2 linked regions of the Homo sapiens genome follow. The protein of the gene in region 1 purifies or fractionates together with the protein of each later gene. This does not show direct contact. Each region holds a gene or a part of one and is shown on either strand. Other genes may lie near its edges. The genes, in order: PRTFDC1 and RTN3.

What was found.
Region 2: the proteins of PRTFDC1 (region 1) and RTN3 fractionate together in Homo sapiens (co-fractionation; one large-scale study listed by BioGRID). This does not show direct contact.

The regions. Positions count from the first base shown.
Region 1 is NC_000010.11:24,946,014-24,949,834, forward strand, and holds part of PRTFDC1 (phosphoribosyltransferase domain-containing protein 1), read right to left. Parts: intron 1-3,821. UniProt on the Homo sapiens protein: Has low, barely detectable phosphoribosyltransferase activity (in vitro). Binds GMP, IMP and alpha-D-5-phosphoribosyl 1-pyrophosphate (PRPP). Is not expected to contribute to purine metabolism or GMP salvage.
Region 2 is NC_000011.10:63,715,774-63,719,594, reverse strand, and holds part of RTN3 (reticulon-3), read right to left. Parts: intron 894-3,821; coding exon 1-893. UniProt on the Homo sapiens protein: May be involved in membrane trafficking in the early secretory pathway. Inhibits BACE1 activity and amyloid precursor protein processing. May induce caspase-8 cascade and apoptosis.

The sequences.
Region 1 (3,821 bases):
GGGATCATCCAGGTGTACAGCACTTTCTGGATCACCTTCCAGACCACATGTACTATCTACCCCACTTTCTGGAGCTCCTCCACCAGTGGCACCATTAACTAGTGGTCTTCTGAATCCATTCCTCCAACCACATCAATCCTTTACTGCCCCCGTTCTGGTTGAATCTTGGAGCATACTCTCCACTCCATGTTCAAGAGTTTGGCTCTGACACTTACTACTGTGATGTTAGGGAGATGACTTACTGTCTCTGAGATCCAGTTTCCCCTTGCTTTAAATAAGACACAGTAAAACCTATGGATAGGGTTATTATAAGGATAATGTACTTAGAATACCTGGAACACTGCATGGTGTATAATACATGATGTTTGACGCATAATGCCAAAAAAAGGAAACAGACTAAAAGTGCCAAAAATGAATGCCAAAAATAGGAAAAAAATGATAAGAAAATCACAAATGAAACAAACCTATAAACTGTAATATGGATCCATAGCCCAGAGGCCACACAGAGTAGTGTGTTAAGAGCATGGACATGGAAATCTCACACACCTGGGACAAGCCTGCCAGCCATGAGACCTTGGGCATATTAAATTCTCTTAGTGTATTCATCTATGAAATGGAGTTAGTGCCTGCCTCATATGGCTATGGTGAGCATTAAATAAGATAATGAATGTAAGACTCATATCAGTTTCTGGTCTACAGTACTTATGCAATAAATGCTAATCATTTAGATGAACTGAAACATCAATCATTTAACAACAAATTATATGTTTTAATTCATCTAAAGAAGTGCCTCAAACCTATATGCCAGTGTTATTATCTTAGTTAAAACTATACATTTGAGGCCTGGCACATTGGCTCATGCCTGTAATCCCAACACTTTGGGAGGCTGAAGTGGGAGGATCACTTGAGCCCAAGAGTGTGAGACCAGCCTGGGTAATATAATGAGAACCCATCTCTACAAAAAATAAAAAAAAAAATTGTTCTGGTGTGATGGCGTGTGCCTGTAGTTTCAGCTACTTGGGAAGCTGAGGCAGGAGGATGGCTTGAGTCTAGGAGGTCAAGGCTGTAGTAAGCCATGATCGCATCACTGCCCTCCAGCCTGGGTAGCAAAGTGAGATTGTCTCAAGAAAACAAAACAAAAAGTATAAAAGTAGAAGAAATATATTTCTCTAAAACTGTTCTATAATCCAAATTGGCCATTATTTTCAATTAATCTTAAATAGTGAGTTTTCATTGTTGAGATGAAAGTCGATTCAAGACGATGGAAATACTGGTTTATGCTTTGCTAACTTCAATGGTGCATGCAAATCGTGTTGTAAATAAATCAAAACCTGCAGGAATGGAGGTTGCTATGAACTGTAGATAACTGTTATTCACTTGCTTTTTAAAAAATCAAAACCAGAGTCTGTAGATAGTTTCAGTATCACAGATAATATGCTCTAAGTGTATTCAGTACAATGCTTTCTCTGTTCAAAACAGCAAAACATAGCCAAGCTGGGGGAAGTGACAAACCCATTAAGTGAGTCATTTTATGCAACATCCAAATCCCAGAAGTAATTCTGATTCTCTTTTTCGCACTGAAGATGCACTGAAAACTTTGTAAGTCATTAAAAATAATTTTTTTTGTGCTTAGACTATTTTTTGCATCATTTTTCTCCCTAAGGGAGAAAACACATACAAGAAGCTAATCTCTGCTCCTCTCCCCTGCTGAGCTCCACAGATTGGCCCTGTTCTCTCCTTCAGGCCATAGCTCTCATCTGTCCTCCACCAGCAAGAGAAAGGGGGTCTCATCCCTTCACTCTAATTCAAAGAATCCCAGACAGGAATTCTGGGATTCCTGTCCTAGCCCTAGAGCCAGGGAAGGAGGTACCCTGGGAAGGGCCCCACCTCACAACCATACATCTTGAAAAGTGGGGACAAGTGGTTTGCTAAAAGATTCCCAGGTTCTGCTCACAGAGGAATGAAGGAAGCTCGACAGGCCAACCACCTCCTATCCACATGCCTTCCTCTTCTGTGGTGGGTTTGCCCCACAGAAGGAAAACTCATTACCACCTAGTAGAGCTGTGCTTTCGATGGATTACTTATCTCTGATATTACCTGATTACTTATCTCTGATACTGCCGTATTTTCATGGGGGGTGACAGGAAGCCAGCCATAACAGAAACACAACAATCATTTCTGATTTCTCTCTTCTCCTGATTCCTACCAAACTCACTTAGGTAAGTACTAATAATAGCTCAGTTGATAATCATTTGGCAAAACCAAACCAGACAAAAACAAACAAACAAAAACATGTCTAATAACCCGATCCCCAAAAGCCAGGTGGATAGAGAAGATCTTTATCTCTCCCTGAGAAGTAACAAAGAGGTATCAACCAGGAATCTGGTGACTGTATTAGCTCCAGATCAAGTGACAAGCCAACTCTGAGCAAAATTTCTGACCTTAGGATCTACCTCTCTTATGTGGCAATTAGCATTTGCTACCATTTATTGTTAATGGTATAAATGTCCTACCTCCCCAGTTCAACCAAAAGCCAATTTATAGGCAAGAGCCATCTTAAATCTCTTAATATTCCCTTCTCTTGCACAAACTTTACTTCTCGTTTTATATTTATATCATCTGACTCTACATCCCTTGCCATCTTTATCAACAGATTTCTACCAACTCGGAATTTTCTTCTCTACCTCATTCCTGGACAATTCCTTGGCTGATTTACTCCAATGCCTACCTCAACGATCTTTCCAACGACTTCATCTTGTAGCTCCTTCACCAGCCTTAGCTCAAACTACATTCTTAACTCAAATCACATCTTTATTCCCCATTTAGCAATACATTCACATAGCCAGACCAGTCCTACAGATGGCCCCAACCCTGAAATTCCATCCTGGAATCACAGCTTGCTATGTAGTATAGTGATTGAAAGCTGGTTCAAATCCCGCTTCTGCCATTTGCTACTTATGCGACCTGGGTGATTTACTTAATCTCTCAGTGCCTCAGTTTCCTCTTCTGTAAAATGGGGAGCACACTAGACCTCCCTTACAGATTTGTGCTCAAGAAATGCTTGCTATTATTACCTGCCCTCTGCCCCTTTTTTCAGATGGGGTCTCACTCTGACACCCAGGCTGGAATGCAGTGGCACGATCATGGCTCACTGCAGCCTTGACTTCCTGGGCTCAGGTGCTTCTCCCACCTCAGCCTCCCCGGTAGCTGGGACTACAGGCATGCACCACCATGCCTGGCTAAGTTTTGTATTTTTTGTAGAGAGAGGGTTGGCTGCCCAGGCTGGTCTCGAACTCCTGGGCTCAAGTGATTTGCTCTCTCAGCCTCCCAAAGTGCTGGGATTACAGGTGTGAGCCACCACTCCCAGCCACCTGCCCCTTTTTAAAACTGGTACTAATTTGATTTTTTGTATCCCATCCTTGAGAGCTTTCTATTCTCCCAGTAAACTCATCCTCTCCAGCTCTCCCTTCCCTCCTGCCTTACATGCCATGAGCTGCCTTCTACCAGCAGCTTCGATTCGCTCTGAAGTTGCCTGCTTATATCCAACTTGAGGTTAATCTAATTATTCCAAGTTCTACTGGAGAAAAGGATGTAAATGTAGGGACTATCTCCATTATATGTGGATTATTTCCCACCTTTGTGGGCTCTCATGCAAGCACCAAGCCCCTTGGCAGCTGGTCCAGTTTATACTCATTTTTTTTGTTTATTTATTTATTTATTTATTTATTTTTTTTTTTTTTTTTAAGAAGGAGTTTCACTCTTGTTGCCTGGAGTGCAATGGTGCAATCTTGGATTGCTGCAACCTCCACCTTCCGGATTCA
Region 2 (3,821 bases), on another chromosome or scaffold:
TCCTGTAGTTTTTGTGATGCAGTCAGAAGATTTATCGGTCTGTTGTTTCACTTGGGGAACCAGATCCCAAGTCAGTATTTCGTTAGTAAAGTTATGCATATCATTCACGCATCTGGACACCTCTTCCAGTGCTGCATTTGTGTGTGAAAACTGCCTACTGAGCAATGCAGACATTGGGTAACGTCCTGCCTCTTTATTTCTCAGTGGAAAAAGCTTGTCATTAGTCTCTGAAATGTCTTCGGATGATTCTTTATCAGTGTGCACAGACCAGCTACCAAAATCATCTGTGCTCTCCTTATATGAGTCTTTAAATTCTTTGTCAAATGCTGCTTTGTCAATAATTACTTCAAATGGTGATTCAGGGGAATCCTTTTCAATAACATCATCTCCTGAAACTTTGGATGGAGACAAAGAATATGTATAAATGCCTTCTACCTTAGAGTACTCAGTAGGTGGTTTCTGGGCTGTCAGCAAAGTGAATCTGTCATCAGCATCCAATGCAGTTTTAGCCTCCCTACTTGATACCCCATTTGGGTTCTTGGTCTCTTTATCTATTTGCTCTTCCACTTGACCAATTTTCTTTGAGAGAAAAGCAGGATGCTCTGGGAAACTGGCTGGAATAGAAGGACGGTCACAATGAACTCCTGCTGCAAGAGAAACTGAAGAGTCTGATACGTTGTTGCTGGTCCCCTGAGGCTTTTCCATCTTTTTCATATCTAGAAGATCCAAGTGGTCTTTTCCTTCTTTGGCTAAAATAGGCTGGCTCCCTAACACATGGCTTTTTTCTCCATGTAGTATTGTAAGGCCAGTGTTATGTATTTCAGAAGATGAAAGAAAGGAAGAAGTCATAATTTCTGAAGATGGCTCATCAGAGCAAAGAGAGCTCAATCCCTCTATGATCAGAATTTCAAAGAAAAAAATTGTTTACCAGGTACAATTACACATTAGCTAGCCAAGCCAAGCAGCATGCTTTTTATTTTTTAAATTACATAAATATATATATACACACACAGGATGTATATATACACACATAAATATGTAACAAAACGATCAAGTTATCCTACAGGACATGCATAAAACTGCCAACAGTGAAACAGAAAAGCCATATCATGCCACAAACTGCAAATGATAAAAAATTTTCATGACAAATACTTTTGGTCTACTTTTCCATTGTACAGAGAAAGCATAAAGAAGGGCGGTAAGATTGAGAAATCTTGGGAGGTTTTTTATTCTTTGATAGAGCTAATCAACAAAAGCAAAATAATTTATACAAAACAAATAACCTGATACTATAAAGGGTTGATAGACTTCAATCTGTAAGCTGAACAATTCAGAGCACAGACTGCCTCTATAAATCTGTTAGTCTCACAATCTGAAAAGGAAAAAAACTAGTGGCCAGACTTTTTTGATTTTTAGGAGATGCAATGGGCCCTTCCTGAATCTGAAAAATGAGACTAGAATTATTCTATTCTATCCACAGGGAGAATCTGTCCCATGTACAAATAAATAGCTGTGATGTTCTAAACTAAAGGGTACTGAAAAAGGTGGACCCCCTCCAAAATCTTTTTTTTTTTTTTTTGATACGGAGTCTTTTTCTTGTTGCCCAGGCTGAAGTGCAATGGCGCAATCTCAGCTCACTGCAACCTCCACCTCCCAGGTTCAAGCCATTCTCCTGCCTCAGCCTCTCAAGTAGCTGGGATTACAGGCAGGCACCATCAAGCCCAGCTAATTTTTGTATTTTTAGAAGAGATGGGGTTTCACCATGTTGGCCAGGCTGGTCTCTTAACTCCTGACCTCAAGTGATCCACCCGCCTTGGCCTCCCAAAGTGCTGGGATTACAGGTGTGAGCCGCTACGCCTGGCCCCTCCAAAATCTCTTGTACTAACTTGTCATTTAAATCAATATTGTACTGTGCAAATTGATTTCTTTGGTTAAGACAGAGTTAACTTGGCTGGGTGCAGTGGCTCACCTGAGGTCAGGAGTTCGAGACCAGCCTGACCAAAATGGTGAAACCTCATCTCTACTAAAGATACAAAAAAATTAGCCGGGCGTGGTGGCAGGCACCTGTAATTCCAGCTACTCGGGAGGCTGAGGCAGGAGAATCCTTTGAACCCAGGAGGCAGACATTGATGGCAGTGAGCTGAGGTCACGCCATCGCACCCCAGCCTGGGCAACAAGAGTGAAACTGTCTCAAAAAAAAAAAAAAAAAAAAAAAAAAAGACAGAGTTAACTCCAGAATTACTTTTAAAATAGAAAATATCCTTCTCAAAGTAATACGTTAAGTCTTATCAGTTAATACCATAGTAGCCATCAATCTACCACACTGTTTTCTAACTTCCCACTCTAACAAATTTTTACTGGGGAAAAGGATCAAAACAAATATCCCAAGGGCTGGTGCTTTCTTACTTCATTTATTTGTTTGTTTGTATTTGAGAGAGGGTCTCCCTCTGTCCTCCAGGCTGGAGTGCCAGTGGTACAATTGTGGCTCACTGCAGCCTTGACCTCCTGGCCTCAAGCTATCCTCCCACCTCAGCCTCCCAAGTAGCTGGGACCACAGGCACATGCCACCACACCTGGCTAATTTTTAAACTTTCTTTTCTTTTTTTTTTTTTTTTGTTTTTTTTTTGAGACGGAGTCTTGCTCTGTCGCCCAGGCTGGAGTGTAGTGGCGCGATCTCTGCTCACTGCAAGCTCCGCCTCCCGGGTTCGCGCCATTCTCCTGCCTCAGTCTCCCAAGCAGTTGGGACTACAGGCACCCGCCGCCACGCCTGGCTAATTTTATTTTTGTATTTTTAGTAGAGACGGGGTTTCACCGTGTTAGCCAGAATGGTCTCGATCTCCTGACCCCGTGATCCGCCTGCCTCGGCCTCCCAAAGAGCTGGGAATACACGCATGAGCCACCGCGCCTGGCCTGATTTTTAAACTTTCTACAGACCTGGTGCCTCACTACATTGCCAGGTTGGTCTCAAACTACTGGGCTCAAGCAACCTGCCCACCTCGGCCTCCTGAAGTGCTGGGATTATAGGCATGAGCCACCACGCCCACCCTGGGCGCTGTCTTTCTTGCATACTGTTGTATCTTTGGAGCTGGGACAAAGTGGGTCTTAAATAAATAGCCCCAAATAAGTGAATCAAAGATTCAGCTTGGTCAGCTGAGACCTAAGTAGGCTCAGGACAGCAATGCCTTGAGCATGAATGAGTAACTGGGAAAATGTGACAGAGAAGTTCTTTTGGGATTACCTTTATTCAGCTTATGTTCCCTTTTTCATGTAAACATCCAAATACCAGATAAAAGCAAAATTATGACTTCATTCAAAATTATTTTATTAAAGACAAAAATATTTTACAATAAATAAAATTCCAGTATTATGAAAATGTTTTGAAATGCCATATAAAGTTCCCCTACTTCAACACATCACTGAAACTTGATGTAATAAGAGCTGAGCTTTAGAAATAGTATAACTGTAATCTGGTTATTAGAATAAAAAGTCTTTGTACATTCAAGGAAAACTGTAAAAGCTTGGTGGCAAAGCTATATTACCAAAACAAAACACTTGAAGTAAACTGTAATTCATATGTAGTTCTAATTTAGTAAACATGGTTTGCATCTACCATTATACAGTATGGATATTCAGCATGACTAGATTAGGGCATAACAGAAATGAAGCCCAGTATTGTAGGTTAAAAGGTTCAAAAATCTGAAGTGTGAAGTACTACAGATTACATTTAAATCAGAAATATTCCACAATCTGAGCCATGCATTGTTACTGAACTTACTAGTCAGTGTTTCTACCACAAAACATTCAGTGAACTAAGGTTATGG